4 linked regions of the Homo sapiens genome follow. The protein of the gene in region 2 purifies or fractionates together with the protein of the main gene of each other region. This does not show direct contact. Each region holds a gene or a part of one and is shown on either strand. Other genes may lie near its edges.

Region 1 (7,653 bases), on a different chromosome or scaffold from region 2:
AATTTTTTTTGGGAGGGTTGGGGGGCAGTTGACGGAGTCGCGCTCTGTCGCCCAGGCTGGAGTGCAGTGGCGCGATCTCCACTCACCGCAACCTCTGCCTCCCAAGTTCAAGCGATTCTTCTTCCTCAGCCTCCCAAGTAGCTGGGATTCTAGGTGTGCACCACCACATCCAGCTAATTTTTGTATTTTTAGTAGAGATGGGGTTTCACCATGTTGACCAGGCTAGTCTCGAACACCTGGCCTCAAGTGATCCACCCTCCTCAGCCTCCCAAAGTGCTGAGATTACAGGCATGAAGTACCACACCTGGCCCTTTTTGTATTTGTATTTTTATTTTTTAGCAAGGGTCTGTTGGTTATAAACTTTCTCAGTGTTTGTCTAAAATGCCTTTATAGTGTGCTTATTCTTGACAGTTCTCTGGATATAGAATTCTGGCTTGACATTATTTTCAGCCTCTCAAAGACACTATTAGTCCTGTTCTGCTTCCATCATTGCTATGTGAGCCAGGAGTCTGTCTACCTTGCCTTCTGGAAAAAATCTTAATTTTTTTTTTCTTTCATACTATACGATTCACCATGATGTGTGGAGGTATGGATTTCTTTTCATTCTGCCTTGAATGTATTGAACTTCCTGGCTATGAATTGATACCTTTCAACAATTCTAGAAAATTTGTAGTCATGATCTTTGAGAATATCACCTCCTTCCCACTCTCTGTATATTCTAATAAAATCTAAACTGGACCTTCTCACTCAATCCTCTCTTTCTCTTAACCTTGCTTTTAGATTTCCCATCTCTTAGTGTCTCTGGATTGCATTCTGGGTTGTTCCTTCAGCTCCTTTCTCAGTTCACTAATTTTCTTTTTTGCTCTGTCAAATCTGTTAGTTATTTCTTCCAAGAACTTAATTTCAATTTTAAAAATTTTGTTTCTAGAAGATGTAATGGATCTTTTCAAATCTGTTCATTTTTGCTCAAATTTTCAAACTTTTCATCTATTTCTTTAAACATAGTAAGCATAGTCTTATATTCTGTGTCTGATAAGGTCAATATCTGAAGTCTTAGTGGTCAGTTTTTGTCCACTGTGGCTGCTGCTCAGTTATCACGCCTTGTTTGCTTGTGAGATCTCTGCCCCGTGAGAGAGTTCTTTGAGTCCTCAGATAAAGTTAAATTGCTCCGGGGTGTTTCTGCTAGTCACCTGGAATGCCACCAATCCAGAACACCTTTTTCGTTCTTTTTTATTTATTTACTTATTTTTTGAGACACAGTCTTGCTCCGGCTGGAGTGCAATGGCATAACCTCAGCTCACTTCAGCCTCGACCTCCCAGGCTCAAGGAATCCTTCCACCTCAGCCTTCCCAGTAGCTGGGACTACAGGCACACACCACCATGCCCAGCTAATTTTTGTAGAGATGGGGTTTTACCACCTCGCCCAGGCTAGTTTTGAGCTCCAGGACTCATGCGATCTGTCTGCTTCAGCCTCCCAAAGTGCTAGGATTACAGGCGTGAGTCTGAGTCACCATACCCAGCTTTGTTCTTTTTTTTTGGAGATGGACTCTCACTCTGTCGCCCAGGCTGGAGTGCAATGGTGTGATCTCGGCTCACTGCAACCTCTGCTCCCCAGGTTTAAGCAATTCTCTGCCTCAGCCTCCTGAGTAGCTGGGATTACAGGCGTGTGCCACTATGTCTGACTAATTTTTTGTATTTTTAGTAGAGACAGGGTTTCACCATCTTGGCCAGGCTGGTCTTGAACTCCTGACCTCGTGATCCACCCACCTTGGTCTCCCAAAGTGCTGGGATTACAGGTGTGAGCCACCGTGCCCGGCCGCCTTGTTCTTTTTTTGAGACAGTGTCTCATTCTGTCACCCAGGTTGGAGTGCAGTGGTGCAATCATAGCTCACTGCAGCCTCAGCCTTCTGGGCTCAAACTATCCTCCCAAGTAGCTGGGACTATGATAGAGACACACACCACACGCCCAGCTAACTTCTTACATTTTTTGGAGAGATGGGGTCTTGCTAGGTTGGCTAGGCTGGTGTTGAACTCCTGGGCTCAAGTGATCCTCCCACCTCAGCCTCCTGATTTACCTGGGACTACAGATCCATGCCACCATGCCTGGCTTTTTTTTTTTTTTTTTTTTTTTTTTTTTTGAGACGGAGTCTGGCTCTGTCACCCAGGCTGGAGTGCAGTGGCGCAATCTCAGCTCACTGCAAGCTCCTTCTCCCGGGTTCGTGCCATTCTCCTGCCTCAGCCTCCCCAGTAGCTGGGACTACAGGTGCCCACCACCACGCCCGGGTAATTTTTTGTGTTTTTAGTAGAGATGGGGTTTCACCATGTTAGCCAGGATGGTCTTGATCTCCTGACCTCATGATCCGCCCATCTTGGCCTCCCAAAGTGCTGAGATTACAGGTGTGAGCCACCACGCCTGGTCGTCTGGCTCATTTTCTTACTTTTTGTAGTGATGGGGTCTCCCTATGTTGCCCAGGCTGGTCTTGAACTCCTGGGCTCAAGCAGTCCTCCCACCTCGGTCTCCCAAAACACTGGGATTACAGTCCATCAGCCACTGTGCCTGGTGCAGGACGCTTTTAAGACTAAATTATCTTCTTAAGGTTTCACAGGCAGTGTGAATTAAAACTGAAAGGTCATGTGAAGCCTGGCTTGAGGTTATTTTTTCCTTCCCTCCAGGGAGGTTTAATTTTCTTTCTTTCTTTTTTTTTGTTTTTGAGACGGAGTCTCGCTCTGTCGCCCAGGCTTGAGTGCAGTGGCGCGATCTCGGCTCACTGCAAGCTCCGCCTCCCAGGTTCATGCCATTCTCCTGCCTCAGCCTCCCGAGTAGCTGGGACTACAGGCACCTGCCACCACGCCCGGCTAATTTTTTTGTATTTTTAGTAGAGACGGGGTTTCACCGTGTTAGCCAGGATGGTCTCGATCTCCTGACCTCGTGATCCGCCCGTCTCGGCCTCCCAAAGTGCTGGGATTACAGGCGTGAGCCACCGCGCCCGGCTTTTGTTTTTGTTTTTTTTTTTTTGAGACACGGTCTTGGTCTGTTGCCCAGGCTGGAGTGCAGTGGCATGATCTTGGCTCACTGCAACCTCCACCTCCCGGGTTCAAGCGATTTTCCTGCCTCATCCTCCCGAGTAAGTGGGACTACAGGTGCCCACCACCATGCCTGGCTAATTTCTGTATTTTTTCAGTAGAGAATGGGTTTTACCATGTTGGCCAGGCTGGTCTCAAACTCCTGACCTCAAATGATCCACCCGCCTCGGCCTCCCACAGTGCTGGGATTACAGGCGTGAGCCACTGCGCCCAGCCTAATTTTCTTTCATACTTCATTGCTGACATTCCTGACGGGGGTTCCAGTTTAATTGCAGGAACTTCCTGTTGGATTCTCTACCTCAGGTAGATGTTTATCATCTGCTTCTATACCCTGGGGTTCAGGGGTCTACAGAAGCCCTTTAGCATTATTTACCTTGCAGGGTTCCTACTTTCTATTTTTTAAAAATATCTTTATTGATACTTAATTCACATACCATACAAGTCACCTATTTAAAGTTGCAATTTAAATATACTATTAAATATACAATTTAAATGTACTGAAGTATATTACGATTTTATTTATTTATTTATTTGTTTGTTTGTTTGTTTATTGAGATGGAGTCTCGCTCTGTCACCCAGGCTGGAGTGCAGTGGCCAGATCTCGGCTCACTGCAACCTCTGTCTCCTGGGTTCACGCAATTCTCCTACCTCAGCCTTCCAGGTAGCTGGGATTACAGGCACCTGCCACCATGGCCACCTAATTTTTGCATTTTTAGTACAGACGGGGTTTCACCACGTTGGCCAGGCTGGTCTCAAACTCCTGACCTTAGGTGATCCAGCTGCCTCAGCCTCCCAAAGTGCTGGGATTACAGGTGTGAGCCACTGCACCTGGCCATATATTACGATTTAAATATACTATTAAATATACAATTTAAATATACTATTTAAAGTATATTCACAGAGTTGTGCAACCATCACCACATCAATTTTAGAACATTTCATTATCCCAAAAACAAATGAGGTACTCCTTAGCCATGACTCCCCAGCCCTCCCAGCAGCCCTGGCAACCACAAATCTACTTCTTATCTCTATGGATTTGCCTACTGGGATATTTCATGTGAACAGGATCATATAATACATGGTCCTTTGTGGCTGGCCTTTTTCATTTAGCATAATGTTTGCAAGGTTCCTCCATGTTGTAGCATGGATCAGAATGTTGTTCCTCTTTGTTGCCAAATAATATCCCATTGTTTGGCTCCATATTTTGTATATTCACTCTTCAGTTGATGGATAATTGGGTAGTTTCATCCACTCAGCTGTTATAAATAATGCAGCCATTAACATTCTCTCTTTTTTTTTTTAAATGGAATCTTGCTCTCTTGCCCAGGCTGGAGTGCAGTGGCACGATCTCGGCTCACTGCTACCTCTGCCTCTGGGTTCAAGCGATTCTCCTACCTCAGCCTCCTGAGTAGCTGGGATTACAGGCATGTGCCACCACGCCCAGCTAGTTTTGTGGGTTGTTTGTTTTTGAAACTGAATCTTACTCTGTCGCCCAGGCTGGAGTGCTGTGGCACGATCTCAGCTCACTGCAACCTCCGCCTCCCAGGTTTAAGCGATTCTCCTGCCTCAGCCTCCCAAGTAGCTGGGACTACAGGCATGGGCCACCATGCCCAGCTAATTTTTGTATTTTTAGTAGAGGTGGAGTTTCACCATATTGTCCAGGCTGGTCTCAAAACTCCTGACCTCAAGTGATCCGTCTGCCTGGGCCTCCCAAAGCGCTGGGATTACAGGTGTGAGCCACCGCGCCCTGCCACACTCTTATGAACAAGGCTTTGCATGGACACGTTTTCATTTCTCTTGGGTATAGAGCTTGGAGTGGAATTTCTGGGTCATATGAAGCTCTGTGTTTAACCTTTTGAGAAAGTGCCAGAATGTTCTTCGGAGCAGCTGCAACATTTTACATTCCCACCGGCATCCTGTGAGGTTCCCATCCCTCCACATCCTCACCCAAGTTGTTATTATCTTTATTATTATTATTATTATTGTCAATGGAGGGCAGGGGATGCAGTGGCTTATTAGTGCCTTTAAAAATAAGTTTTGCAGTTTACCGTTCTATCCCGCACTGGGTTGTTTTAGTCAAGAAGGTTCTTTAGGCAGCAAAATCACCCAACTGCCAGAAATGCAAGCCCCTGCCTTCCCTTGCTGGCTGGCTGTGGCCTCCTGTCGGACCCCTGCTTTTTCTCTTGCCTTCTTCTAAGCTGTTGTCCACGCAGCACTCGAGCCACCTTTTAGAGTCCTAATGCAGTCACATGCCTCCTCGCTGCAAGCTGTGGGAGGGTTCTTACCCTTTGCTTCAGTCCACACGCCCTAGTCCCTGGCCGGCTCCTGGGAGCTCTGCGGCCTCCCTGGGTCTCCGTGTTTCCTAGAGCCTCCGTAAGTGCTCCCTGTCCGCAGATGCGTGGGGCCCTTCCTCACCTCTGCTCTGGGGTGCCCTCCGCCTGGCTTCTGCTTCTCAGCAGCTTCCCAGGGCAGCCCCTTCGGGTCTCAGCGCATAGGTCCCCTACTCTGATCTACTCCTGCTTGCTTTTTTTTGCAGTTGCTCTGCTCGCTAACCTAACGGACTTGCTCAGACTTAAGCCTCTAGTTTCCAAATGCAGGCCGTGAGGGCATGGACCGAGCCTGGCCCAGCCTGCCCATCACCCTGCATGTTCCAGGTGCTCAATAATATTTGTTGAATGAATGAATGCGTGCACAGGGACGTGCTGAGGAGGCTTGGGGGCCAATTGGCTCTGCCCCGCCCTGCCTCTGATCCCCGCCTCCTCACCTGCCCGCAGCCACCTTCTGGGTGAACCCTCAGTTCAAGATCCGGCTGGATGAGACGGATGACCCGGACGACTACGGGGACCGCGAGTCAGGCTGCAGCTTCGTGCTCGCCCTTATGCAGAAGCACCGTCGCCGCGAGCGCCGCTTCGGCCGCGACATGGAGACTATTGGCTTCGCGGTCTACGAGGTCAGGAGGGTGGATCACCGGTGGATCTCACTGAGCAGGCAGAGGACCTGGCGCCCCCGACCCGCAGTGCAGGCGGGCTTCCACCAGGGGGCGCCAGGGACCATGCCCTTCCCCACAAATTCCCCTCCACTCCCCCCACCATCCTGAGGGCTGGGAAATCTCAGCCTCCAGGAGGCACCTGCTGAGGCCCTCTGGCCGAAAGAGAGGAAGGGGGTTGGCTCAGGGAAGGGAGATTCTGGGATTCACCTCACGCTTAGAGGGCGGCCTGCTGCTCTTGGAGGAGGGAGCTGGCTCAGCTGATGCCTGGGAGTACTGAGCCCTCCGTCTTGGAAGCTGTGAGCAGAAGCTGGCAGGGGAAAGATAGGGGATAGGGAGGGCCTGTCGGCCAAGGTGAGGCTGTGCCAGTCGCTCTGGGATTAGAACTCCTTGCTCTTGCCCTGTATCTGCCCTGCTTCACACACTGCCCTCAAGACAGGGAGAGAAACTTCTGGACCTCCCTGGTCGCAGTCTTGGCCCACACCCAAACCCCCTGGCAGCAGCCTGCGGTGGCCCTTTCCTGTCCCTGGGCTTTGGAACATTGCAGTTGGCCACCCCGGGGGCTGGCCTGGAGCCTCTGACTCAGAATGGAGTCCTAGGGCAAGCATTCCCAGGACCAAGAGGACCCTGCCTGAGCCCTCCCTCCTGGGGCCCTGCTGTGGTGCAGGGACCAGATCTGGGTCCCCAGGGCCCTGCCTTCTGCCTCCTTATCCCATCAGTCCCGTCTAAGAACTCAAGACCTCTGCCCAGCATGCACTGTGACCCCGCCCTGGGACAAACACACATCTCTGACTTCCCCTGTCTCTCTATTGCAGGTCCCTCCGGAGGTAGGTGTGGCACCATGACCCACCTGCAGTCACACACCCCTGATGGTGCCAGAGGGGAGCAACCCAGTGGCAAACCCACCCTGGCCTGGAGAGCTAAGAAGTCACCTTGTTTCACTGCTTGAAAAATGCTTCTCCCCACCTGTTCAGTGGGCAGAGCAAACATTGCTCTCCTGAGGGTCAGCACAGGTAGTCAGTGAGGGAGCTGGATTTGAGCCCTGGTCCTCAGAGCCCCTGTCTGACATGTACACATGAGGCTTTTCCTGCCTTGCCATCTACACCAAGTAAGTGCCAACTAGGGCGGTCCAGCAATGTCAGGAGCAGGGCATTAGACAGGCTGAGAGTTCTGTACCCTTGAGCAGTTGCTTAAGCTCCGAGCCTGTGTTTGTGTCTGTAAAATGGGTGTAACAGCAGAACAGCAAATGAGGTGCCGAGTACCCTGCAGTACCTGACCTGGGGAAAGCTCCCAGTGATAATAATGACAGTGTTATTGAAACACATGCCTAATCTGCAATCCGGTGCTCCTCTCCTCTACCCTCTGCAGTGAGTAGGGTTGTTACATTTTACAGATGAGGAAACTGAGGCAAAATGTCTTGTTAGGGTCACACAGGCTGTGAGTGAGCCATGCCCCAGCTCTCCAGCCCCTTGGCCAGGACAAGGAGCCTGGAGTCTGGGTCTGGGGGTGGCCCCTGAGGGTGGGCTGAGTGGGCAGCTGCAGCCCTGCTCCCTCCTCCCTCCCACCAGCTGGTGGGCCAGCCG
Region 2 (7,653 bases):
TCAAGTTTGAACTTATGTCCATGACCAAGACCATGCTGTTGTTCGTGTCCATGGCCAAGGCCATGTCCTCTTTGGTGCCCATGCCCTTGGTCACGTTCATGTTTATGGCCATGGCCAAGATTATGTTTTCTTTGTTTTTCATGGCCCCAGTCATGTCTACGAGTATGCCCTTGTTCTTTTCCTGAATCCCGCTCTTCATCTTGTGCAGGTGCCATGGAAGTGTGGGGTGGACTTACAGTTGTTTCTTCTTTTATTTCCCCTATTCGTGATGATCGGAAAGGTGAAAAACCTGGAGGCCTTTTCATCAGTGAGATCTAAACAGAAAATATTAAGATGAATGTATTACTGCAAAAATCATGCTATTGATGATAGAAAAAAACACTGAGATCTGGCAATGTTATCTTAGTTTACAATGGGGGAGGTGTTTGCCAGATTTTAAATGCTATATTAACATTCCAGAAAGGATGAATAATTTTTTTTGTCTTTTGATTGATCTTAAAATTTGTGGACATTAATTATTGTTGTTAATAATACCATAAAATAGCCAGGCATGGTGGCTCACACCTGTAATCTCAGCACTTTGGGAGACCAAGGCGAGCAGATCACTTGAGGTCAGGAGTTTGAGACCAGCCTGGCCAACATGCTGAAACCCCATCTCTACTAAAAATACAAAAATTAGCTGGGCATGGTGGCACATGCCTGTAATCCCAGCTACTCAGGAGGCTGAGGCAGGAGAATTGCTTGAACCCAGGACGTGGAGGTTGCAGTGAGCTGAGATGGCGCCACTGCACTCCAGCCTAGGCGACAGTGACTCTGTCAAAAAAAACAAAAAACAAACAACAACAACAACAAAAAAAAAACAAAAAAACCCAGCCAAACAACAACAAAAAAAACTGTAAAATAAGCTGGAGTGTTTTTGCTTCATCTGGATGGTTGAACTAGCTAATCTCTAGGGTAGCTTCTGAGCCTATGTTTTTACTGAGCACAGTATTTAATTATTGATACTACTGTTATTACCACCATCACTGCTTTTATCCTAAAAGGCCCTAAGTGGCTTTATGAACTGAATATATAGGGAGCATGTATCCATGATCACTTTGTTGTGCTGAAGCACATTAGGACATATTCGCAAGCTTGAAATGCAACCTGAGGACAATGTTTGTGTTACACCATCTACATACCTACACATGACAAAAGACCAAATCAGAAAAGAGGGAAAAGAGGTAACCTGCTTCAAATATGTCGATCTGTGGATTAATTCTACCTACACTTTTGCTACCTGTGAGAATGTGTTAATTGGAAGCAGTGTCTGGTGATGCAAAGAACATGGTCATTGGAGTCCGGCCAGACCCTACTGGTAATCAGCATCGTGATGGAAAGGGTAGACTCTGAATTGACCAAGATTTGAATCCAAGTGCCATCAGCTTCACTTTTCCTTTCTGTAAAATAGAAATAATAACAGCACCTGCCTCACAGAGTTATAAGGAGGACTCGAAAATGTGGGTGAAACCTTCAGTATAGTGCCTGGGACAGAGGAAGCATTTGATAATGTCATTATTCACTCAGGACCTCAGAGTCTTTCTAATTTTTAGTGTCTCATCCTTGACAATAGGGAAAGTGTTACTACCTCCCAGAGTTCTTTTAAGACTTAAAAAAGAAAGATGACATCAACGAATGCTTTTCAAACTTGATTCATGCATATGAATCCCCTGGGGATCTGGTTAAAATTCGGTAGCTGTGAAGTGGGGTTTGCGAGTCTGAATTTTTCTTTTCTTTTTTTTTTTTTGAGACAAAGTTTCGCTCTTTGTTGCCCAGGCTGGAGTGCAGTGGCAGGATCTCGGCTCACTGCAACCTCCACCTCCTGGGTTCAAGGGATTCTCCTGCCTCAGCCCCCTGAGTAGCTGGGATTACAGGCGCCACCACACCCAGCTAATTGTTGTATTTTCAGTAGAGACAGGGTTTCACCATGTTGGCCAGGCTAGTCTCAAACTCCTGACCTCAGGTGATCTGCCTGCTTCAGCCTCCCAAAGTGCTGGGATAACAGGCGTGAGCCACCGCGCCCAGCCATGCATTTTTCACATGGTCCTTGCATGTCAGCAGAATGCAGTGGAGTGCTGTATCTGGCCTCAGGTACACCTGGCATAGCCAATGTTGCTCCCCCACAGCAGGACTGCAGTGCACTAGGAGAGAGTCTATAGAAGCTTCACTGAGACACTGACAATGTGTGAGAAGTGATCAGGAGGATTGTTACTCTTCTTTCTAGCCATTAAACAGAGATCAGCACAGAAGTGTGAGAGTTACTCCCCATTTAAAAAAGATAGCTCCCCAATTCATTTCAGTAATGGTTCATTTTCAGCCCCCAAATATGGATTTTCAGAATGAGCAGAACTGACCCCACGCTGACTGTAATTAGAATCATACCATTCCCAGTGGTTGACAGTTGACAGTAGGGTAAATTTTTTTCTCCCAGGGTACCACATAAACTTCAGCGTTGCAATCTAGGCTTTGCTATCCATGAAAACAGAAGTCGAAAGAGAGACAGTGTTATTCACGAGACATTTAAACAAATGATTCTAAAAACATCAAATAGGCTTCCAGTGAAAAAGTAGACAGGTGCATGACTACTCACGCCAAGTTTTTTGGTCTCACAGCTTTCGGTCAACTCTTCATTACTTTCCTTGGAACATGTGGTTTCCCTGGCCACGAAGTCAATAAAATATTTCTTGCCAGCCACCACCTGAAAAATTAATTAGTACAAAGTAAACGCTTAAAAATATTTGCATAATAAATCATTTATCTTTAAGAAATGTTAAGGGAGAATCTTGAAATTTTAATTGACCAACTTAGAGAGTTACATACAAAAAAGTACACGTTTGGCATTAAAGCTTGGCATGCATATTTAAAATATTTGGCTATCGGTTGGTCCCATTTCCTTTTCTAAGTGGGGGAAGAAATAAGCAAGCTATAATTTTCTTTATTTTTTTTTTTTGAGATGGAGTTTCGCTCTTGTTGCCCAGGCTGGAGTGCAGTGGCACGATCTCGGCTCACCACAACCTCCGCCTCCTGGATTCAAGCAATTCTCCTGCCTCAGCCTCCTGAGTAGCTGGGATTACAGTTGCCCACCTCCACGCCTGGCTAATTTTATATTTTTAGTAGAGATGGGGTTTCTCCATGTTGGTCAGGCTGGTCTCGAACTCCCGACCTCAGGTGATCCACCTGCCTCGGCCTCCCAAAGTGCTGGGATTACAGGCATGAGCCACCATGCCTGGCCTATAATTTTTATTTATTTATGTATTTATTTGAGTTTTATTGTCCAACAGCTGTTAAATTCACTAGTAATTCAAGGGCTCAAGTTGTAATATCTAATAATCTAACAGGAATAGGAAGAAAAACTTAAAATGTTTTTAAATATGCCTTATTGTCCTGCCAAATCTTGAATTGGTGAAATACTGAGTTAGTACTACTATAGAAATTATGTGGATTAAATTTTGTAATTAGAAAAATTATTTGGGGTTTTTATTGTTCTCTTACTATTTTTAATATTAAGAAATTATTTTAGGCTGGGCGTGGTGGTTCATGCCTGCAATTCCAGCACTTTGGGAGGCTGAGGCGGGTGGATCACTTAAGGCCAGCTGTTCAAGACCAATCTGACCAACGTGGTGAAACCCCACCTCTACTAAAAATATAAAAATTAGATGGGCTTTGTGATGCACACCTGTAATTTGACAGCTATTTGACAGGCTGAGGCAGGGGAGTTACCTGAACCCAGGAGGCGGAGGTTGCAGTGAGCTGAGGTCATGCCACTGCACTCCAGCCTGGGTGACAGAGTGAGACTCTGTCTCAAAAAGAAAAAAAAATTATTTTAATCTCTAGCAACAGTTTTAATCACTACTCAACACTATCTTCCATTAAATATTTTGTGGCCCAATTTCTCAACCAAATTATTTAGTATTAAATCATAGTATTTAAATGTGTTGGCCGGGAATAGTGGCTCCTGCCTGTAATTCCAGCACTTTGGGGGCCTGAGGCGGGCAGATCACCTGAGGTCAGGGGTTCGAGACCGTCCTGGCTAACATATAATGAATCCCTGTCTCTATTAAAAATACTAAAAATTAGCCGGACATGGTTGCAAGCATCTCTAATCCCGGCTACTTGGGAGGCTGAGGCAGGAGAATCGCTTGAACCTGGGTGGCAGAGGTTACAGTGAGCCAAGATCACGCCACTACACTCAAGCCTGGGTGACAGAGTGAGACTCTGTTTCGGGAAACAAAACAAAACAAAAACAAACAAACAAAAAACAACTAAACAAATAAATAAATATTCACCAAAACCCAGGATGAGGAAGGCCTTTCTTAGGTGAAAAGCAGAGGAAAGAAATCTGAAGGAAGGGGAAAATACTAAAACTTGACTAGAGAAAAATGAAAACTGCTTCTGAAAAATCACAATAAGCAAAGTAGAAAGGCAAGCTGGGAAAACTATGATATAGAATCAATGTCTGTATGAATATAAAGCCCAACACTAAAAATGGACAAAAGCCATGAGCAGGTATTTCAGAGAAGTTAAAACGGTCATTAAGCCTAAAAAAAAGTTTAACTTCATTAATAAACAAAAACATGCACATTAAAAAAGCAATGAGACATCATTGTTAGCCTTCCATGCAGGCAAAGATGAAAACAAAAATTGATGATACGTGGCATTGGCCAGGCATAGGAATCAAGCAGCCTCAGTCACTGCTGGTAGGAAGAGAATTCAAATTAAGATCCTCAACTGGTGTCTTTTTTCTTTTATTTTTTGAGACGGAGTCTCACTCTGTCACCCAGGCTGGAGTGCAGTGACACACACTGCAACCTCCGCCTCCTAAATTCAAGTGATTCTCCTGCCTCAGCGCCCCCAAGTAGCTGAGATTACGGGCAAGTGTCACCACACCTGGCTAATTTTTGTGTTTTTTGTAGAGATGAGGTTTCACCATGTTGGCTGGGCTGGTCCCAAACTCCTGACCTCAGGTGATCCGCCCGCCTCGGCCCCCCAAAGTGCTGGGATTACAGGCATGAGCTACCACGCCTGGCCTCAACTGGTGTCTTATACCCAGGTGATGTGAATGTAAATTGGCATCATTGCAAATATTTGGTGATTCTGGCAATTTGCATCAAGTCTTATATATCTACATATTATTTGACATTCCTAGGACTTTGTCAAAGGAAAAATTTCTGCATGTGCACACACAGATCTTGGAAGTTTATTCATCTCAGCAGAGGCAGACAGGAGCATCAACAGCCTTGGGGACAGCAGCAGTGGTGGTAGGGCAAAATAAAACTTATATGAAACTGTAATCACTAATGTGTGAAAATGGAAGATTCAGGAAGTGTTTCATATCTGAAATATGAACCCAACGTGGAATCAACATGCATCCAAACAGGACTAAATGTGCAAACCCAAGGCAAGATTAAAACTATAAATATTTAGCAATTTGGCAAATTGGTCATTTTGGAGACTAGCTTTTAGCAAATTCATCATATGTTTAATTGATTTCCAGTAAATTGGCTGCTTCCATCAAGGCTGCCTTGGGTGACTATGTCCAAGCAACCAAATTGCTCTCTTTAAATGCAAAAATTAGTAAAGATTTATCTCTCTAAAGTAAGTTTGAAATTCTTGCAATATTCAGATTGACTTGGCAGCTATCTGATGGGTTACCTCTTTGTGTCCCCCTGACATCCTTAATGTAGACACATATGCATACTAGAATGTTGATTCATTAATCCACAGAGAAAACTGTAACTACTAAGAAGACTAGATATTCATGCTTGAGAATGAGTGGTTCTGTTTTTGATGGCAAACCTCTGACATACAATACATGGTGGCCTATTCCTACAACATTCAGAATAAAGAATAAGGGAGCTGGGTGCATTGGTGTGCGCCTGTAATCCCAGCTACTTGGGAGGTTGAGATGGGCACATTGCTTGCTCCCAGGAGTTCGAGTCCAGCCTGGGCATCATAGTGAGACCCCCATCTCTCTCTCTTTTTGTTTGCTCTGTTGCCCAAAGGGTCTTGTTCTATCACCTAGGCTAGAGTGCAGTGGCACGATCACAGCTCACTGCAGTCTCGACCTCCCAGTCTCAAGCAATCCTCCTACTTCAGCTTCCCAAAGTAGTTGGGACTACAAGCACATACCACCATACCCAGCTAATTTTTTAATTCTTTTTTTTTTTTATTATTTTTTGAGATGGAGTTTCACTCTTGTCACCCAGGCTGGAGTGCAATGGCATGATCTTTGCTCACTGCAACCTCCGCCTCCCGAGTTTAAGTGATTCTCCTGCCTCAGCCTCCCGAGTAGCTGGGATTATAGGCACCCACCACCACACCCAGCTGATTTTTGTATTTTTAGTAGAGATGGTTTTTCACCATGTTGGTCAGGCTGGTCTCGAACTCCTGACCTCAGGTGATCCACCTGCCTCGGCCTCCCAAAGTGCTGGGATTACAGGCATGAGCCACCACGCCTGGCCTTTAATTCTTTTTTTGTAGAGACAGGGTCTTGCTATGTTGCTCCAGCTGGTCTCGCTCCTGGGCTCAAGTGATCCTCCTGTCTCTGCCTCCCAAAGTACTGGGATCACAGGCATGAGCTACCATGTCTGGCCCGCGTCTCTCTTAAAAAACAACAACGAAAAAAGAATAAAATAATTTCACAAGAAAGCAGAAATATAAAGTGAGAAGTTAAAGCTGAAAAAAGCATGAATAGCATAGATTGGCGTCCCTTTCAAGTAAACCTAACGTGGTCATATGGCAATGAAATCAGAGAGAGAGGGTGGTTGTGTCTGGGATAGAAACAAGTGCTCAAGTAGCAGAGAGATCAAAGTATCAGTTTTGATTTACTTTAATCTAGTTTGTTTACTTTTTTTCAGTTACAAAAGTAATACAGAAAATTAGAAAGATTAAAGTAGTGTTATTCCATCACCTAAAAATCACCACTATGACTATGAGGCATTCGTTTTTTTGTTTGTTTCCAGGTGGAGTCTGACTCTGTCGCCCAGGCTGAAGTGCAGTGGCACAATCTCGGCTCACTGCAACCTCCGCCTCCCGGGTCCAAGCCATTCTTGTGCCTTAGCCTCCTGAGTAGCTGGGATTGAAGGTGTGCACCACTACACCCTGCTAATTTTGGAATTTTTATTAGGTTGGTGCAAAAGTAATTGTGATTTTGCCATTACTTTGGCAAAAACCACAACTACTTTTGCACCAACCTAATATTATAGATGGGGTTTCACCATGTTGCCCAGGCTGGTCTCAAACTCCTGACCTCAAGCAATCCACCCACTTCGGCCTCCCAAAGTGCTGGGATTACAGGCGTGAGCCACTTTTTTTTCCCACATTATTTTCTGTACTTTAAAATAACACAACTGATAACATCATGTATATTCAATTTTATGCCTCCTTTTTTTCACTGAATATTATAACACAAGACATTCCCCATATCAAGAGCTCCGCACAAAGATGCTTTTAAGTTGCTGCTTAACACTCTATTCTGAGGATATGCCAGACATGATCTAATCATTCTCATATTAATCATTTTGACAGTTTACTATTTTTGCTGTTATACTTAAAACTGCAGTGAATATCATTGTATATAAAGACTCCTACTTTAGATTCCTAGAAATTCAATTC
Region 3 (7,653 bases), on a different chromosome or scaffold from region 2:
CAAAATGCTTACCTAAGAAAATTATATCTAAATAATCATCTATTAACTAATGGCATCTAAATAATAATAATAGCATCTACGTAATAACTTTGCCTCCTCAGCTCAACATGTACAATCATGGGAACAAAAAGAATAAGAAAAAATAAATTAGAGTAATAAATGATAAATATGATAAGGAAAGGCAAAATATGTTTACAATTAAATTTTATGAAAAGATCCATAGGAATTAAAATTTTAAATTAAAAAAATAAATTTTACAAAAAGAGAAGACAAGAATCAAAAAATCTACCAGATAGAAACTTTGCAGCAAAAATTCAAATAGTAGCTCAAACCATACTAAACCCTATATCCTCTACAAAACTAAAGATTATTCAAACTTTATAATCTCCAGATTAAACAACTGATCTTAGACTCTCTCTAGACTGACTTTTGAAAAAGTCTTTAGAAAAACTAACTCCTCCCTTTCTTAAAAGCCCATCTTACAAAATATAAACTAGGAAAAGCTATTAAACTTTAACTGACATACCTGGCAATCACTTATTATTTAACAGCATTTTGTGTTTTTTTTTAAACTGTGGTCAAATACACACAATATGAAAATTAACATTTTAACAATTTTTAAGTAGACAATTCAGTAGCATTAACATTAAATTGACGAGCTTAGTACAATTTGTGAGCTTGTACAATACTGCACATTTCCAGAACTTTTTCCTCATCTCAAACAGAAACTCCGTGCCCATTAAACAATACTCCCCATTTCCCAATGCCCTGAGCTCTGGTAACCTCTATTCCACTTTCCCTATGAAAGGGCCTGTGCTAGGTATCTCATGTAAGTGAAACTGTACATTTGTCCTTTTATATCTATTTTATTTCACTTAACATAATGTTTTCAAGGTTCATCCATGTTATGACATGTATCAGAATTTTATCCCTTTTTAAAGCTAAACAATATTCCACTGTTAGCATATACCACATTTGTTTATCCATTCATCTGTCAATGGACATGGGTTGTTTCTACCTTTTGGCTATCATAAATAATGCTGCTGAAAACACTGGTGTACAAGTATCTGTGAATCCCTGTTCTCAATTCAATTGTGCATATACCTAGAACTGGAACTGCTGGATCATAATGGTAATTCTAAGTATAACTTTTCTTTCAAGAGATGGGGTCTCACTCTGTCACCCAAACTGCAATGCAAGGCATGATTCTAGCTCGCAGCAGCCTAGAACTCCTGGGTTCACATGACCCCCCTGCCTCAGTCTCCTGAACAGCTTGGGAGTACAGGCATGCACCACCATGCCTGGCTACACGTGTAACTTTTTGAGAAATCGCCAAACTTTTCCACAGCAGCTATGTTACATTCCCATCAGCAATGCACAGGAGTTCCAATTTCTGGACATCCTCACCAACATTTGTTATGTTTCTTTAATAACAGCCAACCTAGTAAAGTGGTATCTCATTGTGGTTGTAATCTGCATTTGCCTAATGATTAGCGAAGCTGAGCATCTTTTCATGTGCTTACTGACCATGTGTGCATCTTTAGAAAAATGTCCATTTAAGTCCTTCTGCCCAATTTTTTAATTGGGTAGTTTGTTTTATTGTTGAGTTGTGGGAGATTTTAATGGTTAAGAAATGAAAATTCAGGAAGAAAACCATGCATGAGAGCTGTGCTCCAACCTGAAATGTCCAAAATCTACAATGCACCGATTACAGTCTCAACTTCCTTTGATGAAATCCCATCCTCTCAGCCTCTAAAAGTAAATATTTTAACATCTCTTTTATCCCTGATATCTAAGAGATCACTAACCCCTTCCACATCTCCCTCTGCTTTATCACCCCTTCTTTGCCAAGGCACCAATCTTTTACCTGAACAGTCACAAAATAGTGCCCCTGACAACAGTCTCCCTCCTCTCCAGTCAATCCTATATATATATTGCTAACAAAGCAATCTCTTCTCAAAACACAAAATTGATCGCTTCCATTTTAAAATCCTTGGCAGGCTCCCTTCAGCACACAGTTTAAAATCCAAATTCCTTGGTTTATATACAAGGCCCTTTGGTCTGTATACTGCCAGCATCCACTTGCATCTCTCCACACCCACACTTCGTGTACAGCCATTCTGAAGTTTAAAAAGTCATCTTTTTCCATAATTCTTTTTGCTGTGATTTCCTCTGCCTAGAATGCCCTTCTGCCACCATTTTATAACACAAATAGCATCTTCTTTGAAAAACCCTCCCTTTGGCACTCAGTCCTTTGGGCTCTCATCACTCTGTGGACAGGTAGTTATTATACAGCATTCAGAATACAGCATTTCAGGTGATCTGTTTGTTCTCCTTTCTAGGCTATGAGTCCTTCAATGGCAGAAACTACATTCACCTTTGTAGCCCCAGCATAATGGCTGAAACAGAGTGAGACTAAATACTTGCAGAAGACCAGGCACAGTGGCTCACGCCTGTAATCTCAACACTTTAGGAGGCCAAGCCAGGAGGATCACTAGAGCCCAGGGGTTCAAGACCAGCCTGGACAACATAGTGAGACCCCCATCTCTATTAAAAAACAAAAAGAATAAATGAAAAAATAAAAAGAACAACCAAAAAAAAAATACTTGCAGGATAGGTAAAACAATGAACAGATAAAATCTGAGTCACATATACCTGATATTATTTCATAAACAAAATAGAAAATTATCTTTCTCCATATTAGCAAGAAGATTAAGTAACAATATATTTTCCAGATCAAAAGACTGAAATTCCAAATCTTACAATTACACTTACAAGTGATCTTAAGATAAAGGAGATAATATATCTAACTGCACTTCCATAGAATCTAGTAAATAGGCAACTGTTCTTGGAGAAATTAAGATGAAGATATAGAAGCAAAGAACTACTTGGATATCATCAAATGCACTTTTCACATCTATACTAACTATATGAATTATATGGGAAAAAATTTACCATCAAAAAGATCACTGGCTTCAACACTCCAGGACACAAATGCTTTCACATATGCCCTCAAATGTTGGAATAATGATTCAGTTTATCCTTTCCAATAAATAGAATACAGTACTCATCAGGAAATAGTTAACGGTAGGCGGGAGGAGTGGGAGGAAGCAGTATCCAGATACAAAGATTTCAGCATTTACAAAAATGAAACTTAACATTAGTCAAAGCCTCCAAAACCTCGTCAACCCTAATTCAACTACAATAAATGCATTAGTTCTTCCTCCAACTTTTTGTTATAAAAATTTTCAGTAAGAAAAGTTGAAATAATGCAGCAAACATATTTCACCTATATCCAACAATCATGAAAATTTTGCCATATTTGTTTGTGTGTGTGCATTTGTGTACATATGGGATTTTCGGAATGGGAATGCTGACTGTTTAAAAATAAATTGCACACACATCATGACATTTCACCCCTAAATACTTCACCATGCCTTTTCTAAAAATAAAGATGTTCTCCTATAAAACCATAAAATCATCGTCCCTGAGAAAAAAATAATACTTCTCTAACATCAGCTACTGGCCAGTAATTTTCAACTTTCCCAAATTTTCCCCAAAAATATCTTTTTAGCTAGAAAACCAGGACTCAATCAAAGTTCATTTAACAAGGATCAAAAAATACTGCATTTGGTGATGTCTCTTTAGTCTCTTTCAATGTAGAACAGTCCCCACCTTTTTTTCTTTCTCCGTGACTTTTTTAAAGAAACCAGAATGTAGACTATAAACTTTTTATAATGGAAAATTTCAAATAAATACAAAGTAAACAGAATAGGATAATGAATCCCCATCAGCCAGTTTTAATAATTATCAAGCTTGGCTGGGCATGATGGCTCACGCCTGTAATCCCAGCACTTTGGGAGGCCGAGGTGGGTGGGTAGATCACAAGGTCAGGAGATCGAGACCATCCTGGCTAACACAGTGAAACCCCAGCTCTACTAAAAATATAAAAACAAAATTAGCCGGGTGTGGTGGCGGGCAACTGCAGTCCCAGCTACTCGGGAGGGTGAGGCGGGAGAATGGCATGAACCTGGGAGGCAGAGCTTGCAGTGAGCTGAGATCATGCCACTGCACTCCAGCCTGGGTGACAGAGCAAGACTCCATCTCAAAAAACAAATAAATAAATAAACAATAATAATAATAATAAAGCTTTAGCCATTCCTAGCTATCTATTTCCTTATCTCATGGTATTTTAAAATATAATTCTCTATTGCCTATATTTCCTATAAATAGGAAGTTAGGTCTAAATATTCATATTTTTGGGAAGAAAACTTAGATGACATCATGTACTTCATTCTGTATTATAGCTAGAAGCACATAATACTCCTTCATGTCACTACTAATTATGCTAAACTCAATCACTTGATTGAGGTGGAGACTGACAAATAACTCCAAAGTAGAGGTACATTTGTTCCTTCACATTTACCAGGTAATCCACAGGGTGATGTGTTGGTGCCATGGTAATATTCTTTCAACCAACAGTGTTAGTATCCATTTACAATCCTTGTTGGAATCAATTATTGCACTGGAGGTTACAAAATGGTGATATTCTAATTCTACAATTCCTTTTACACTTATTAGCTAGCATTCTTCTCTAAGTACAAGTTTTCCTTCATCAAATGGAGATGAACTGCATGTCTTCCTGAAAAAATATGGCAAATGCTTAATTCTTTCCCTTTCATTATCAACTTTCAGAACAGTTAGTTATAACAGCCAACTGCAATGGCTGCAAAGCAGATTTTTTCCTTTCTCTCTACCATTATGAATCCCACGATTTTTATTTATTCAAATCTTTGCAATCAATTATAGTAATCATGTGTTAAAATATTTCTGTACTCTTCATGTTTTATAGGTTTTTGCTGGCAATAACAAATTGAATTACATAAGGACAGAGTGTTTAAAGATTACCATTAAAGTGACAAAGAAGAGTGTAAAAAAAGTGATGATATAAAAATAAAATTAAATTTTTATTTTCCTGCCATTATCTTCACATTATATTATGTCATGTTACAACGTACACCCAGCTGCTGAGATCATTAGGCTGGTTTTATCATTTCTGTTAAATTTTAAAACAAAACTTTTTTTTAATTGCATTAAATAGTGAATCAAATGCTAAAATTCAAATCAACTCACCTGCTGAACAGGACTGTCAACTGTAAATGCTTTATAAACTGCCAATGCCTGGCTTTTACTTCCTTTGCTCCATATCACCATATTTCCAGCAACATAGAGTTCCTCATCATAGTCCACATCTTCTCCAATTTCACTTACTCCTTTCCTTAACTGCCAGCTTTCCTTAAAAATTAACACATGTAAAACATATTCAAGCACTCTTTTTTTGTTCTTCAAAAATCTGGAACAAAATTTATTTGCCCATGGAGTAAGACTCAATTCAAACACAACTCCTACAAAGTTTGGTACACTGATTAACGGAGGATGTGGATATATGCATTACACTACAGAATTACATGAAGAATTTACTCAATAATTCTCTATATTGAATGTTTTATATTATTCCTCTATATTACTCTGCCAAAAACAAAAACGAACAAAAAGTACACCTTCTCTATAGTTCCAAAAGTCAAATCACATGCTTGGGAGACTAAAAGGACATATTAAGTATATGAGGTAGGGTAGGGAAAGGACAGTGAGGTGCACGTGGGAATCACTTGGGGAGTTCACACACAAATGCAGACTTCCTGCTTCGCAATCACATATATATTCACCTTCTTTTCCTTTGTCCCACCCACCAAAATGAATGGAAGAAAGAGAAGTTTCCATTTGTAACTACATAGGCTTTCCCTCCCCGAGATTTTAGTATCCCAAAGGGATATGACAATGGAATAAGGCAGGAGGGATTCATTTTCTGACACACACTTAACATCTCATTCCTCTACTTAAGAACTATTACTCGCCGGGTGTGGTGGCTCACGCCTGTAATCCCAGCACTTTGGGAAGCCGTGGCAGGTGGATCACCTGAGGTCTGGAGTTTGAGACTAGCCTGACCAACATGGAGAAATCCCGCCTCTACTAAAAAAATACAAAATTAGCTGGGCGTGGTGGCACATGCCTGTAATCTCAGCTACTCGGGAGGCTGAGGCAGGAGAATCACTTGAATCCAGGAGGCAGAGGTTGCGGTGAGCTGAGATTGTGCCATTGCACTCCAGCCTGGGCAACAAAAGTGAAACTCCGTCTCAGGAAAAAAAAAAAGCTATTACTCTACCTACTTTTGTGGCATTTCTTCTCTCCTTTAGAAACATGTAAATCTTCTGCAGCAGGGACTACTTCTAATCTCTACCATTTAATCATTAGATAACATGAAATCTGGTCCCCACATATTAAGTGAAAAGAAAAAGGTTTAAAATGGACAACAATCATACTACTGAACCTGACTCACATTATAACACCACAAGTTGGCCGGGCACAGTGGCTCACGCCTGTAAACGCAGCACTTTGGGAGGCCGAGGCGGGTGGATCACCTGAGGTCCGGAGTTCAAGATCAGCCTGACCAACATGGAGAAACCCCATCACTACTAAAAATACAAAATTAGTAGGGGTGGTGGTGCATGCCTGTAATCCCAGCTACTCGGGAGGCTGAAGCAGGAGAATCACTTGAACCCGGGAGGCAGAGGTTGCGGTGAGCCAAGATCGCACCAGTGCACTCCAGCCCGGGCAAAAAGAGCAAAACTTCATCTCAAACAAAAAAATTGAAAAATAAAAAATAAATAAAACCACAAGTTATAGAGGGTATCTAAATAAGTCGCTATGACAATGTAATAAAGTCATTATTTTCAACATTTATTGAAATTACCACACCTTAACTCTACTCTAGAAGTGGCATCACACCGATCTCTCAGTTGCATCTTAGTAGCCTTAAATTACAAGTAGATTATATCACTCTACATTTCAAAAACACAATGGGAAACTCAATGGAACCTTCTGTTTCTCGTGGATTGTAACCTCCTGAAGGGATCCCACCAAGCCAGCAGCACCATCAGAAGACCATAATTCAGAAGCTGGCTGCAGCTGGCGAAGTTGAAGGTTCAAAGCATTAGGGTGGTGCTTGCAGTGGTCTCGACCAAAAGGAACAAATTCCTGCAAATCCCTTGCTGCAATCATCGTTGTCCTTTCTTCATAGAAGTTCGACATGGGTTCCAAATATCAACATTATTTCTGTATGAATTCAAACACATTCTGGTCAGCTTCCAGACTCAAAACTAGAATAAAAATACCATAAACACACAAGTCATTAATCCTTACATGGGTGTCAAGTAATTATATCAGACTGGTAAGTATATAAGTTGGTCATAACATAAAAGGGCATTCTAGATCTGATTCAGACAGTTGCAATTATCACATTTTAGTCACAGACTGACAGTTACCACTATAGGAAACCACTGAGATGCAACAAGTACTTATGTCCCGCACCACCTATCCCGTGTTTCCCACTACTATACGCTAATTTTTCCATACTTTATATATGAAGTATTTAGACAAGTTGTATTCTATGGTCCCATAACTACATGGCTTTTCAACATTTAAGGTCATTTCTGGTTAGATGCCAGAACCTCATTTGAAAAGTACATCTAAGGGATCATTGTCATATTGGAATAAAACAATAAAAAACCACACATTACTCTAATTCATCAGAGG
Region 4 (7,495 bases), on a different chromosome or scaffold from region 2:
GCAACCTAGGATTTCCAAATCAACACCCTTATAAATCGTCCCATGAAATAAAATGCTATTTGTTGATTTGAAAATGAAAAATTAGTTGACATTTCTTCAATGAGAACCCCTAGGTCAATCTGTCCATAAAAAATTTTTCACAATGGATAAAGTTCTATTATATGTAGAATGGTTTGCTTATTCTCCATGTTATGTAAAAGCAAGAACAGCTGTGTGTTAACCATCTAATGGTACTTATATGGTAACCATTAGCTGTTGACCATCTCACCAGAGAACTGTGCAAAGGCTAATAATTTTTTTTTTTTTTTGAGATGGAGTCTCGCTCTGCGGCCCAGGCTGGAGTGTAGTGGTGCGATCTTGGCTCACTGCAAGCTCCGCCTCCCGGGTTCACGTCATTCTCCTGCCTCAGTCTCCTGAGTAGCTGGGACTACGGGCACCCGCCACCAGGCCGGGCTAATTTTTTTGTATTTTTAGTAGAGACGGGGTTTCACTGTGTTAGCCAGGATTGTCTTGATCTCCTGACCTCGTGATCCGCCTGTCTCGGCCTCCCAAACTGCTGGGATTACAGGTGATCCACCACGCCTGGCCAAAGGCTAATAATTTATAATGACAATACTCACGGTTTGCAGATGTAGATTCTACCATATAAAATGTGAATTCTGAAAAAAGTATCTGTTATCTCTGAAAGTGTTCCACTTTCCAAAAGCAGAGCACGAATGACAAGATAAGGAGCTCCATTTACCACTGCTACATATGGATAGGATTCCTCAGAGTCCAGGCCTCCGTTCTCCTTGACATACTGGAAGGCCCTAGCCATGAAGCCACCATTGCAGCCCTGATTGCCTTGAGGACGCGAACAGTCCACCAGATTCTGCTCGCTCAGTGAGACAAGTTTCCCAGTTTTCCGGAACATCTGTCCTTCAAGAGCACCAGTCGCACTAAAAGCCCAACAAGAACCACACTGTTTCTAAAAAGGGAGAAAAAAAAAGCTGTAAATTTACAAGACCAATACAAATACAGTACCCCATAATTGAATTACCTTAATATTCTTTAAAAAAAAAAAAAACCCATCGCCACACTTTGGGAGGCCGAGGCGGGCAGATCACTTGAGGAGAGGAGTTTGAAATCCGCCTGGCCAACATGGTGAAACCCTGTCGCTACTAAAAATACACAAAAATTAGCTGGGCATGGTGGTGAGCACTTGCAATCCCAGCTACTCGGGAGGTGGAGGCAGGAGAATCTCTTGAACCCAGGAGGCAGAGGTTGCAGTGAGACGAGATCACGCCATTGCAATCCAGCCTGGGCAACAAGAGCTAAACTCCGTCTCAAACAAGCAAACAAAAAAAACACCAAAAACCAAAAATACAAAAAACCCATCACCATATGTTGTGCCACCATCTACCACAGCAATGACACCAATTCCTTCTTGGCTTTCCTGTGGAGACAGGGTCTGAATCTGACGCTGTCTCACCTGATTCTTCACTGGCGTCACGTAGCCTTTCTTTCTCCAATCCACAGATTTGGGAAGATCAAGAAACAGAGGCTCACGGAACACTTTCCCCTTCCTGAATTTCTGGTTTCGAAAGCAACCCATCATCTGCCTGAATTCTTCATTGGTCTTCAAGGAGAAGTAAATAAAATGTTAAAAGCAAGACTATTTTGGTGAAGAACTGAGAAGCAGCACAGAGTTCAGCAATCCTTGCCACACTCACCATGTCACCAAAAGCATTCATGGCCATTGTGAAGCCATGTTTCCCTTGGCTGTATTCCCCATTGTGCAGTTCAATCATTTTCATATTCTTTTCCCACACTGCTCTCCTCCATCCTTCTTCATTCTAGAGGCAAACATATAGCTGGTGGACTTTATGTCTACTTACCCAACCCATGTTCACCAAGCCGATTTGCGGGCAGAAATGGAAGAGAAACCATGGCCAGGGATGGGTTGATACTTCTCTGGGAGCTGTTCTCCAAGCCAAGACACAATGGAGATATATGCCCATATTGCACCTATAATGGGTGCTGTTAGGTTATTGCCTGGTAAGGTCTGGTGTCTAGAAGCTACTCTCTGGCTATCAACTCCCAACAGCGAGGACCATTCTCTCCAGAGTCCCTCTGGACAGTTTCAGATGTTACCAACCGCGCCATATAATCTTCTGTGTGTTGCCTTCCACTGGTACCACTTTGTATCCAAATTTTGGTCAAATTTTGGAACAGCGGAGGCTATTCCCAAGCAAAAGGCAGCCAGGACGAGCGAAAGATTCATGTTTCAAAACCTAGAAAGAGAAAAGAAATGAGTATCTGATTAGACCAATCCTAAAAAGCCATCTTACAGCCCCCGTGGAATAGAAATATTTCAATTATTCTCCCTAGCATTTCCCCAAGGACTGTGGAAGAGGCTGAAACAGGCCAAGTGGAGGTATTTGATGGGCCCACCAAAATTAAAAGCAGCCTGCAGAGTTGGAGGCGTTGAAACAGCATATGCGATAATTTAGGGTATGAGAAGGGTGTGAAAGATACCTGACGGGTGAGAAGCTTAAGGCAACAACTAGAAAACTAGGAAAGAGTTGGTCCAGGTTTTGCACCAATTGTACTGAGGTCATCCAGGCAAAACCTCACTAATGAAGACGTACCATCCCAAGTAGATGCAAGCGGATCCCCAAGGAACACCACCTCACACCTTCTTGGCTGATACACAGCAGGAGATGAGCTATGTCTTCCAACCTCTCCTTTTGGAATAAAACCTTTCGGGAATCCCTTTCCAGGAGACACTGGGAAGGAGAGCACCCACTATTCCCGCCGTCCCACACTTGGGTCTGTGCTACTCGCTCCCCTAAACCGGGGCAGGGTCACAAGGCCGCGCCGCTGGAAGCCAGGGGCCCCAGGGCCAGGGCCCGGACCGAGGCAGGCAGCTCCCGGAGCTCCGGGCGGGCCAGGACCGGGGCCGCACCGCCTGCTCTCGCCCTCTGCACGCGCCGCCGCGCCCCGAGAATGTTTGCGGCGGTGCAGGGAGCGGGGGCTCCGCGGCCAGGCTGGGGGCATGAAGCCGCCCGGTCCGGTCCGGCTTCAGCCCACAGGATGACTGACCTGCCCCGCCCGGGCCCTCCCAGTGGTGCCGGCGCCTCCCTGGGGTCTCCAACCGCCCTCCCCCGTTCCCCACCTCGAGGCTGGCAGAGCTCCGGGCAGAAGCTCTCACTCCCAGAAGCGCCCGCCTCCTCTCAGTGTCCCTAAAGGGGGGTTCCCTCCTCCAGTCCCCCTTCGCCCTGTCCCTCGGTCTGGTCGGGGGCGCTCACCAGCAGCCGTCGCAGCTGCGCAGGCACCCTCAGCAAACAAGCCTCTGAGATTACAGACGTCCGCGGTCTGGTGCAGGTTCGCCCGCCTCGGGATTTAAGTTTCCAGGCGGCCTTCCCCGCCCCCACCGCCTTCCCGCGCTGCGATTGGCTGTGCCGGCCACTGGGCGGGGCCCCGGGCGCTTAGAGCCCGCGCGTGACGCAGCCCAGTCCCAACCCGTCTCAGGTCTGGGCGCGCCTACCTCAATACACCCTGGCTGCGGGAAGCTGGGCCGGGCGCCCGGGGGCTGCGCGGAGGAGGGGGAGGCGCCTCCCTCAAGGGCTCAGATCTACTGACTATCCCGACTTACTGCGCTGAGCGGGTGGTTTACAGCGAGCTCTGTGTGGTATTTCAGTCCCTACTTTAACTTAGTCCTAGAGTTTTTGGTGAAAATCTGCAGGGCCGGGAGCCAGGGTACTCTCGTTCAGTGGCTCCTGTTTAGTCCACGGCAAAGGTGGGACGGAGTGGAAGAACGCACAGCCCCCAGCAGAAGCATTACCTTCCACTTAAGGGTGGGTGCATCAGGGCTTTAGAAGAATCTGGTAAGGAAAGGCACTCCCAAAACACGGGATGGATGGTCGAGACCGGACACCAGGAGGGACGGGACTAGCTGATAGGGTGTCCAGAGACCGCGGAGCGTTTTGTGGTGCGTCCTTCCCAGTCTGTTGCATTCAGGAATTCTTCCTTCTCCCATGTCTTTCAATACCAAAAAAAAAAAAAAAAAAAAAAAAAAGAGTTACAGAAATATTTGGTTAATAAAAAAGAGAAAAGCGTTGAGAATGGTGAAATAAATTGCTTTAAAAATTTTTCTTTTGTAGAAATGGAGTTTGGCTAAGTTTCCTTAGGCTGCTCTTGAATTCCTGGCCTCAAGCGATCCTCCCCTCTCAGCCTCCCAAAAGTGGTGGGATTACAGGCGTGAGCCACTACGCCCAGTCTGAGAGTGGTGGAAATTGCTTTTACTTACCTACTCTCTGCTTATGGGTTACAACGTCTCTTCCTCAGTATTCAAAGTGTGCTTCTTTTGAGATTTAATAAATTTACTTTAAAAATGTTTAATACCGGCCGGGCGCGGTGGCTTACACCTGTAATCCCAGCACTTTGGGAGGCCGAGGCGGGCGGATCACGAGGTCATGATATCGAGACCATCCTGGCCAACATGGTGAAACCCTGTCTCTACTAAAAATGCAAAAATTAGCTGGGCGTGGTGGCGGGCGCCTGTAGTCCCAGCTACTCAGGAGGCTGAGGCAGGAGAATTGCTTGAACCCGAGAGGCGGAGGTTGCAGTGAGCTGAGATCGTGCCACTGCACTCCAGACTGGTGACAGAGCGAAACTCTGTCTCAAAAAATAAAAATAAAAATAAAAATATATAATATCAGGGTTGAGGTGATGCAGTTTGAGGAACTGCTCTTTATGGAGAAATATATGTAGCTAAAGATTTAAGGAAATCATTAATAATTCAGAAACGTTTCTAATTCTTTTTAAAGTTATATAAAAAAATCCATTATAAAAAATATGTTTTAGAAAATAAACGTCCCTTGTGCCCTCTCCATAACCCTTTTCTAGGCATATCTTTTTTTGTTTTTACAAAAATGAAGTTATAATGCATATTGATTAATAAACTCTTAAAGATTAAATTGAATAATATCCACAGTTTTTACTTGTTAATTTGAAAATTTGTGAAATCAAGTTTAGCCTAAAGCTGCCTCCCCATGTGATTTAAGTTTGGCCTAAAGGTTTCTCTGTACATAGCGAATTGTAATCTAAATGGAGGTGTAAACAGACTGTAGCCTGCTCTTGTGCCTATCCCCGAATTTCTGTAAATCAAAGAGGTTCAGTTGTTCAAACCATGTTCAAATAAGGCAAACATGGAGCTGTATCCAATCCTGCAGTTTCTGTGCCTCACTTGCCCTTTTCTGTCTATAAATCTTCCCCCATGTGGCTGCACTGGAGTCTCTCTGAGCCTACTCTGGCACTGGAGGCTGCCAGATTCACGAATTGTTTTTTGCTCAATTAAATTCTCTTAAATTTAATTTGGCTATGGATTTTCTTTTAACAAATTAAAAACAATTAAACTGACAACTTTTCAGAAGCACCATCAGGCAAATACATCTTTTTAAAAATCAATTTATTAATAATTATATGTCCTTCCTTTAAATAAATAGCAGCTTTTCCCTCTCAAATACAACTAGGGGCCAAAGCTGTCAGGTGGTTATATAAAAAATACAAAAGTATATTGTATTGCAGGCCAAGGTAGGTGGATCTCCTGAGCCTGGGAGTTTGAGACCAGCCTGGGCAACATGGCGAAATCACACCTCTACCAAAAATACAAAACAAACAAACAAAAATTAGCCAGGCATGGTGATGCATGCCTGTAGTCCCAACTACTTGGGAGACTGAGGTTGTAGTGAGCGGAGCAGAGCATGCGCCACTGCACTCCAACCTGGGTGACAGAGCGAGATGCCGTCCCAAAAAAAAAAAAAAAAAAAAAAAAGCATCTTGTACTTGTACTGCAAATTTGCCGTCTCAAAAAAAAAAAAAAAGCATCTTGTACTGCAAATAGCTGTTTTTTTTCTTTTTTAAAAATTAATCATTGTGTTGAACACAATCATCATTCACATGTGGAAATAAATGAAGACCACCACCTAAGAACAAACAGAGGCCATATATTCAGAACTTGCTATAACAAAGGAGATAATTCAAAGACGAGGGAGAAGAAAAGCTTTAGGGGAAAAAGGGGGCAACTTCAGCTATGTCCTCTTTGCAGAGTGTCGTCATGGAGAAGCTGAAGGAGGGATAACTAGAGATGGAGCGTCTTATGTGATTTGTTTGTGGAGTATATTTGGTTTTTCTGGTTTGTCCTGGGTTGGAAGCAGAGGCAAAAATGAGGAAGCTGTCAGCCACTGAGTAAGTCCTGACTGTTCTGAGTTGGTCTCTGCAGATATTATGCTTCATTTCTTCTGTGGGTCAGAGTTCTATTGCCATATACTATGGCCATTGTCTATTTGTTTACTCAGTCTATCACAAGAAAGCTAAGTTATTCTAACACGTGGGTTTTACAGTTGCCCTTGGGCCACAGCTCCCTAAGATTGTAGGGTGGAGAAACCTGCCAGGCCATTAAGATCTGTGCCTTAAGCAATAGCCTGACAGCAGATGAGTGGCAGGTGCTGCCCTGAAGAATGGCATCCCCTTTGTTTTTTGGAATGTGAGACAAAAGTAGTGGAGAAAACATAGACCCTTTTCAAACCAAGTGTGCCCCAAATCTAAAATTATACCAGAAATATGTAAATGCAGAAGAAATATGGGAGAAAGCCAATAAGCAAGAGGGTGGAAGACGTTATTGCTCCAACTTAGGACACCTATTTATATCTATTTATACACATCTGTAAAAAAATGCATTACAGAAATGTGGTATTACTAGCCAGGACAGTTGTATTTAAATATTTGTTTCTTTCCCTACTCTTCTATTCCTATTTCTTTGCAAAATAATTTTGATGAGTGATAATTTTTAGAACAGTCACATGTTAGTGAAGCAACCAAGCCTTGGTTATGCCTTTAATAAAATGGAGTTGGCAGAACTTCCTGATTCCTATTTAAAACGCAGTGCCTGTGAAAGTATATTCTCACGTGCATCTGTGTAGCTTTCTTTTACTCACTATTAAAAGAGGATATAGGCCAGCCATGGTGGCTCACGTCTGTAATCCTAGCACTTTGGGAGGCTGAAGTGGGTGGATTACTTGAGGTCAGGAGTTTGAAACAAGCCTGGCCAACATAGTGAAACCCTGTCTCTACTAAAAATACAAAAAAAGTTAGGCAGGTGTGGTGGTGCATGCCTGTAGTCCCAGCTACTTGGGAGGCTGAGGCAGGAGAATCGCGGAGAGGTGGAGGTTGCAGTGAGCCGAGATTGCGCCATTGCACTCTAGCCTGGGCAACAGAGTGAGACTCTGTCTCAAAAATAAATAAATAAATAAAAGAGGATGTGATTCTTTACCCAGTCTCCGGAAATTTTAAACCATAGGGGAACTGGCAAACTTAGTGTGGTGGCATTCAAGACCCTGACATCACTTAACACCTCTCCCCAGTATAATAACCCCCTCCGATTTGTTTAAATTCACTGAGCCAAGAATTACTCTTAAGAAGCATTATCCAGCAAACTGTCCACTTGCAAAAT

The links.
Region 1: the proteins of KNG1 (region 2) and CAPN1 purify together in Homo sapiens (affinity purification with mass spectrometry; 4 studies listed by BioGRID and IntAct, with this or other methods). This does not show direct contact.
Region 3: the proteins of KNG1 (region 2) and ANAPC1 purify together in Homo sapiens (affinity purification with mass spectrometry; 4 studies listed by BioGRID and IntAct, with this or other methods). This does not show direct contact.
Region 4: the proteins of KNG1 (region 2) and CTSV purify together in Homo sapiens (affinity purification with mass spectrometry; 4 studies listed by BioGRID and IntAct, with this or other methods). This does not show direct contact.

What each region holds. Positions count from the first base shown.
Region 1 is NC_000011.10:65,198,825-65,206,477, forward strand, and holds part of CAPN1 (calpain-1 catalytic subunit), read left to right. Parts: intron 1-5,858; coding exon 5,859-6,034; intron 6,035-6,885; coding exon 6,886-6,897; intron 6,898-7,638; coding exon 7,639-7,653. UniProt on the Homo sapiens protein: Calcium-regulated non-lysosomal thiol-protease which catalyzes limited proteolysis of substrates involved in cytoskeletal remodeling and signal transduction. Proteolytically cleaves CTBP1 at 'Asn-375', 'Gly-387' and 'His-409'.
Region 2 is NC_000003.12:186,734,183-186,741,835, reverse strand, and holds part of KNG1 (kininogen-1 isoform 1 precursor), read right to left. Parts: intron 2,738-7,653; coding exon 2,630-2,737; intron 2,509-2,629; coding exon 2,422-2,508; intron 315-2,421; coding exon 1-314. UniProt on the Homo sapiens protein: Kininogens are inhibitors of thiol proteases.
Region 3 is NC_000002.12:111,873,677-111,881,329, forward strand, and holds part of ANAPC1 (anaphase-promoting complex subunit 1), read right to left. Parts: intron 7,174-7,653; 5' UTR 7,150-7,173; coding exon 6,937-7,149; exon of another isoform or gene 6,817-6,936; intron 5,296-6,816; coding exon 5,134-5,295; intron 1-5,133. UniProt on the Homo sapiens protein: Component of the anaphase promoting complex/cyclosome (APC/C), a cell cycle-regulated E3 ubiquitin ligase that controls progression through mitosis and the G1 phase of the cell cycle.
Region 4 is NC_000009.12:97,035,781-97,043,275, forward strand, and holds the start of CTSV (cathepsin L2 preproprotein), read right to left. Parts: upstream 3,363-7,495; 5' UTR 3,291-3,362; intron 2,274-3,290; 5' UTR 2,264-2,273; coding exon 2,138-2,263; intron 1,836-2,137; coding exon 1,713-1,835; intron 1,619-1,712; coding exon 1,472-1,618; intron 968-1,471; coding exon 743-967; intron 1-742. UniProt on the Homo sapiens protein: Cysteine protease. May have an important role in corneal physiology.